2 linked regions of the Homo sapiens genome follow. The protein of the gene in region 1 purifies or fractionates together with the protein of each later gene. This does not show direct contact. Each region holds a gene or a part of one and is shown on either strand. Other genes may lie near its edges.

The links. The genes of interacting proteins can lie anywhere in the genome.
Region 2: the proteins of ANPEP (region 1) and COCH purify together in Homo sapiens (affinity purification with mass spectrometry, with the first as the bait; one large-scale study listed by BioGRID). This does not show direct contact.

Annotation. Positions count from the first base shown.
Region 1 is NC_000015.10:89,808,353-89,811,852, reverse strand, and holds part of ANPEP (aminopeptidase N precursor), read left to right. Parts: intron 1-3,500. UniProt on the Homo sapiens protein: Broad specificity aminopeptidase which plays a role in the final digestion of peptides generated from hydrolysis of proteins by gastric and pancreatic proteases.
Region 2 is NC_000014.9:30,877,559-30,881,058, forward strand, and holds part of COCH (cochlin isoform b precursor), read left to right. Parts: intron 1-13; coding exon 14-170; intron 171-1,252; coding exon 1,253-1,386; intron 1,387-1,864; coding exon 1,865-1,927; intron 1,928-2,893; coding exon 2,894-2,938; intron 2,939-3,028; coding exon 3,029-3,176; intron 3,177-3,500. UniProt on the Homo sapiens protein: Plays a role in the control of cell shape and motility in the trabecular meshwork.

The sequences.
Region 1 (3,500 bases):
TCAAGAAATTCACAGCGAAAGGAACACATGCATTTTGCTCACTGGCAGAAAGAGCCTGCACCAAAGACAACCCGCAGGGCCAGCAACCCCAACATCATACAGGGTGGAGCAGCAGTTCCCAAAGCGGGTGCAACTGGACAGGATCCTTTTAGGAGCTACCTAGAGGAACAATTTTTTCTTTTTTTCTTTTTTTTTTTTTTTTTACTTGAGATGGAGTCTCACTCTGTCGCCCAGGCTGGAGTGCAGTGGCACGATTTCGGCCCACTGCAACCTCCGCCTCCCGGGTTCATGCCATTCTCCTGCCTCAGCCTCCCGAGTAGTTGGGATTACAGGCGCCCACCACCACGCCCGGCTAATTTTTTGTATTTTTAGTAGAGATGAGGTTTCACCGTGTTAGCCAGGATGGTCTCGATCTGCTGACCTCGTGATCCGTCCGCCTCAGCCTCCCGAAGTGCAGGGATTACAAGCATGAGCCAACACGCCCGGCCCAGGAACAATTTTTAAACCAATAGTCATGAATTGTTAATATAAATTAACACATCCAACCATGATTTTATCGCTCAGAAGGAGGCTAAGAAAGTGAATTGATTTAAAGAAAAATACGAAGTAAATAATCACAAAGGTGGATCACGAAGGTGGTTTGTGCACAGCCCAGAAGCCCAGGAAGGAATGTCGGGTAGAGAGGGTGGAACCTGTCCCGAGGATCAAGGCTCTGAAGTTCCATCCTTAACTGCTGTCTCTCATTCTTGCACTGATGCCCCATTCCACAAGCACGTGTTGCCCTCCCACTGCACGCCAGGTGTAGAGGATACGGCACACCTGGTGCTACCCTCATGGAGGCACTTGGAGGGCTGCCTGGGGGCAGCACCACTGACTTGTGTCTCCAGGGCAAGTGGGGAGTGGATGAAGCAAAGGCAGGAAGCTTTCCAGGCCCAAGGATCAGCTTGTGTGTAGGGAGGAAGGGAGAATGAAGCGGGGAAAAGCAGGTTGGATTTGAACTGAAAGAGGCCACTGGGGTGGAGCACAGAAGTGACAGGGGAGAGCGTTTGAGATGAGGCCAGAGAATCACTGGGGGCTGGATCACACAGGCCCTGTAGGTCACGGCAAGGACTGTGGGTGTTGTCATTCATTTGGCCAACATGTATTGGGCTCCTGCCTTGTGCTGGGCATGGAGGGGCATACGATGCCACCAGGCCTTCCTTTGAGGTGCTTGGGTGCAGCAGCAGGCTTTTGAACACACTGGTAGCATTTTTCTTTTTCTTTTTTTTTTTTCTTTTTTGAAACAGAGTCTCGTTCTGTTGTCGTCCAGACTGGAGTGTAGTGGCACGATCTCCGCCCACTGCAACCTCCACCTCTTGGGTTCGAGCGATTCTTCCGCCTCAGCCCCCCAAGTAGCTGGGACTACAGGCGTGCGCCACCACGTCCAGCTAATTTTGTATTTTTATTTATTTATTTATTTATTTATTTATTTTTTGAGACAGAGTCTTACACCGTCCCCCAGGCTGGAGTACAGTGGCACAATCTCGGCTCACTGCAACCTCTGCCTCCCGAGTTCAAGCGATTCTCCTGCCTCAGCCTCCTGAGTAGCTGGGATTACGGGCACCTGCTACCATGCCCAGCTAATTTTTTGTATTTTTATTAGAGACGAGGTTTCACCATGTTGGCCAGGCTGGTCTCCAACTCCTGACCTCGTGATCTGCCCACCTCAGCCTCCTAAAGTGCTGGGATTACAGGCATGAGCCACCGCGCTCAGCCTCAGTGGCATTTTCCTAAGTGCTGTGATAGAGGTGGGAACTGGAGACTGGGGAAGCGCAGAGGGGAGTGGGGGCTGGTGTGCATGATAAGGCAGTGACATTGAGTTGGGTTTTGAAGGATGAGTAGGAGTTTGACAAGAGGGAGAGGAAAGGCATTCCTGGCAGTGGGAACAGAATGAGCAAAGTCACAGAGGTATGAAAAAGCCCCGATGATCTGGGGAGACGCTGGCAGCTGGAGCCACAGTGGGCAGTAGAAAGAGGACAGGCCAGAGGGTCAAGTTCACAGAAGGTATTAAGGCCCAAGCCAGAGTTAAGGTTTCACTCTGCAGGTTGGGCACCAGGTTTGAATGGGAGAGTCCCACCCACACTCTTAGGCAGAGCCCTCTGCTGACGTGTGCTGGTGGGGTTGGGTGACAGGGGAGGGTAGCATAGCCGCCACTGCCCGATGGGGTGTGGAGGTGGCCAGGCCTGGGCTGTGGCAGGGGACTGGACGAGGGAAGCCCTTTTGTGTGTTCCTGAAGGTGGGGGCTGCAGAGCATGGCTGTCTCTGTGCCCCCAGCCTGGGTTGGCCTGGTGCCTAGAGCAGGGACCTCTCATTATAGAGCCAACTTTGGGCTACCTGCTGCACCAACTTGGAAGACCAGAGGCCTTGTCCAGAAGAGTAAAGATTCCAGCCAGCTGGGCCTATGGTCTGAATCCAAAGCAAACAGGAAGAGAGTATGGTGGGCCAGGCAGGGCCTCTTTCTTTGTTTAGAAAAGGGATTAGTCCAGGCCGACTTGTGGGTCTTTCTGCTGCAAAGGTGGGAGGGGGCTGCAGGCTCCGTCAGGGACATATCAAAAGGCTTTTCAGGGGCAGGCATGGTGCCCCAGTGCCAGCCTGGGGGGTGCTGTAAAGATGGGCTCCCTTGGCGAATTCCATCCACCCTGATGGGAGGAGCCTGGCAGCATGTGCTGGGAGCCACTGCTCCTTCTCTCACCACGCCCAAGCTGGAGCCCTTCCTGACACCTGATTTCGCACGATTGCCCCTTGGGGTCATCACCCAAGCCTAATGGGGTGTCTGCTAGTCACTGCAGTGGGAGGTCCATCCTGGTCCCAGACCAAGGCCCCTTGGGGAAATGCCAAAGGCTCAGAACACCCTCAGTCTCAAAGGTGGGCACCCAGGACTCCCCTAAAGACCCTGGGCTCAGACTCGGCCTCCATACACCAGACGAGAGGCGGCAGGTATTTGTGTTTTGCTTATGCCTGATTGAACTAATCCACGTGTCCCTTCAGTTCACACATTGCATTTATTTAAGAAGCCTTCCTGCAAGCTCAGGGGTGGCAGGGGTGGCAGGGGTGGCAGACGAGTGAGGCCCTCAGGGAGCAGAGCTGAGGGAGCAGGAAGGCATGTGGGGCCCTGACATGCTGGGGCCTGGCACGAGTCCGGCCTGCCTGCCATGCTTGGAGAAGGGCTCAGAAGAGGCAGGCACTTCTTCTGGGGGCAGGTGTGGGGTGGGGACAAGCTGGGAGACAGAGGCCAGAAAGACTTTGGTAAGGAGTTTCTCCTGGACTGACTCATTCATTCATTTACTCAATCCTTCGTGCATGTGCGCATCCACTCAACATCTCAGTAATGAGGACCTACTGTGTGCCAGGCACTGTGCTAAGTGCTGGTGAGGCCCTGCTGTCATGGGGCCTGCAGTCCAGGACTCAAGTTATCACCACACAGATCAAAGGGAAAACCACGCTGAGTTCTGGGGCTTTGC
Region 2 (3,500 bases), on another chromosome or scaffold:
CCTTTTTCTTCAGCTCCCATTGCTATCACATGTTTTACCAGAGGCTTGGACATCAGGAAAGAGAAAGCAGATGTCCTCTGCCCAGGGGGCTGCCCTCTTGAGGAATTCTCTGTGTATGGGAACATAGTATATGCTTCTGTATCGAGCATATGTGGGGCTGCTGTCCACAGGTAAGCCCAAACACACCAGGGTGGGAGAGAAATGCAGACGTGATTATTTCCTTTCCTGCTTTACCCATCTGGATCCCTTTCCTCCCTGCATTCTTTCTTTTGTTGCCATTGTGGCCACAGAAAATGGATATATTTTCACGGTTCTCCTGGATATACTTGAAACACCAAATACACATGGAAAGCTTTCTGACAAAAGGCAAATAGCATTACCTCTTGATGGCTAGATTGCTATGATTCCAAAACATTCCTAATCATGTGATATATTACTGAGTTATTACTATGTGCCACCTATTGTTTTAACTTCCACCACAACTCTACAAGGTAGGTAGAATTTTACTCCAGTTACAGATGAAGAAACTGAACTCAGAGAGTTGTCAAGTATCTTGCCCAAGGTGACTATTGTTAGCAAGTGCCATGCTATCCTGTAGTAGAATAGCCAGTATAATACTTCTAAAAAAATTCAGTCCAAAGGCATGTAGCTAAAGTGAGTATCTTAGGAAAATTGTTTGGTGCTCTGAATTTCTAAGTTGTGGGTAATGGGATATTACAAATGTGTTCTTATCAACACTTAAGAAGTTCAACAGCACAAAACCATTTTTTTCCAGGCAAATTTTGTTCTTGTGTAAGCAAGTTTTTAAAAGGCTAGCAGCAGCTGGGAGTGGTGGCTCACACCTGTAATCCCACCACTTTGGGAGGCTGAGGCGGATGGACCACTTGAGGTCAGGAGTTCGAGACCTAGCCAACATGGTGAAACCCTGTCTCTACTAAAAATACAAAAATTAGCCAGGTATGGTGGTGCATGCCTGTAATCCCAGCTACTTGGGAGGCTGAGGCAGGAGAATCACTTGAATCCTGGAGGTGGAGGTTGCAGTGAGCCGAGATCGCGCCACTGCACTCCATCCTGGGCTACAGAGCGAGACGCCATCAAATAAATAAATAAATAAAGCAGAATCTTTAGATGACTTCCCTGATGAGCTATTTTCTTGATTAATCAAAGCAATAGATACAACATGGCACTATAAGTCAGTGGGATGCCCTGAAAAAGTGTGGATAGCATCTCAGCTGCTATTCTTGTGTTACAGGGGAGTAATCAGCAACTCAGGGGGACCTGTACGAGTCTATAGCCTACCTGGTCGAGAAAACTATTCCTCAGTAGATGCCAATGGCATCCAGTCTCAAATGCTTTCTAGATGGTCTGCTTCTTTCACAGTAACTAGTAGGTATAATTATTGTTCTCATTCTGTAATATTCTCCCACCCCCCAAACGTTTTCTGCTTTTTTTAGCTCAGCCTCTTTAACCTTGATGGAAAAACCTGTGATCAAGACTAAAGCTGACCTATAGAGGTAAACTGTAGGTTAGACTGAGGGGTCAAGTACCCACTGAAGCCAAATTTGGGTGAATAGAAGACAATCTTACTGACAGATGATGGCAATAGAAACTTGAATTATTTGCAGTCAGAATGCCCGGACACTTACCAAGGAACTGAAAAACTACTAAATACATTTTTGATGATCCTTTGAAGATATAATGGATAAGCATTTTGGTTCTCTGAAACTAGCATGCAGCAGGATGTTTGTAACTACAATCACCATTACCCTATTACATTTGTCATTGTAGAGAGCTCTAAATTAGATTCATAATACTTTGGTAAAGAAGGAAAAGGAAAAAAATAAGCTTATTTTTATTTTAACAGAAGGCAAAAGTAGTACACAGGAGGCCACAGGACAAGCAGTGTCCACAGCACATCCACCAACAGGTATGAACTATGAAACCTATCTCCTAGTTGCCCGGCACAGCATTTGGAAGTTATGAATAAACGTGTTGTTGGTAGAAGCTTTTCTTAAAGAAATTTGATATTAAAGAGAAACAAAGCAAATACCTTAAGTTTACTGGTATATTACATATGGAAACATTCATTATGTGTATATTTTAAAGACAGGGTCTCACTCTGTTGCTCAGGCTGGAGTACAGTGGTGCAATCATAGCTCACTGCAGCCTTAACCTCCTAGGCTCAAGCAATCTTCTCACCTTGGCCTCCTGAGTAGGTGGTACTACAGGCACATGCCACCACACCCAGCCAATTTTTTTGATTTTTAATTTTTTTTATTTTTATTTTTTTAGACAGGTCTAGCTATGATGCCCAGGCTGGTTTTGAACTCCTGACCTCAGGCAGTCCTCCCACTTCAGCCTCCCAAAGTTCAGGGATTACAGGCATGAGCCACTGCACCCAGCCTAATAATTCTCTAAAAGTCCTATTTTCTCCCAGATTTGATAAACCACGCCTAAGAACTGGTCAAAGTACCATGAACTTCTAGTTCCATTTGCTTCATTAAATTCCTTTAATTACTGCACTGTCATGTGACTAAAAGGAATGTGTGTCTATTGTAAGAAATAGCCAGGGATCCCCTTTTGTATGACGATGGCAGTTTTAAAGTCAAAGATATTAAGAACATTAGGATTTAATGTTGAGTTCCTGCCTCACCTGTGGGTTTGGGGTATTAAAGTCCTGGATTAGGGCATATCAAATATGTAGGCCTACATACTGATTTGTTTATTTGTTGGGTCATTGCTTTCCCTAGTCCAGAAAATCCTGAGGAAATTAATTTTTTTAAAAAAGTCCTTTCAAGAATGGCACTCTGTTGTTATGAGCTTCTCCCCATGTGGGTTTCTTGCTATGTAACTGTCTTCCTTTTGTTAATGCCAAGTGCATCTTTTATTTCAGGTAAACGACTAAAGAAAACACCCGAGAAGAAAACTGGCAATAAAGGTAAGAATCAAGATCTCCATTTGGGAAGGTAGCATTTTCCCTCCCTCCTCTTGAGACTGCTAATGAGGGGACTGGTTTGGTTGTTCGCAGATTGTAAAGCAGACATTGCATTTCTGATTGATGGAAGCTTTAATATTGGGCAGCGCCGATTTAATTTACAGAAGAATTTTGTTGGAAAAGTGGCTCTAATGTTGGGAATTGGAACAGAAGGACCACATGTGGGCCTTGTTCAAGCCAGGTACCAACCTTGTTAAAATGGGAGATTTAAAAAAAAAATTATTTTGTAATTGACACATAATAATTATATATACTTATGGGGTACATAGTGATGTTTTCATACATACAATGTATAGTGGTCAAATCAGAGTAATTAGCATATCCATCACCTCAAACATTGATCATTTCTTTGTGTTGGATACATTCAAAATCAAATGAGGCCGGGTGCAGTGGCTCACGCCTGTAATTCCAGCACTTTGGAGGCCAAGTGGGTGTGTGGATCACCTGAGGTCAGGAGTTCAAAACCAGTCTGGCCAACATGTGAAACACCGTCTCTACTAAAAAT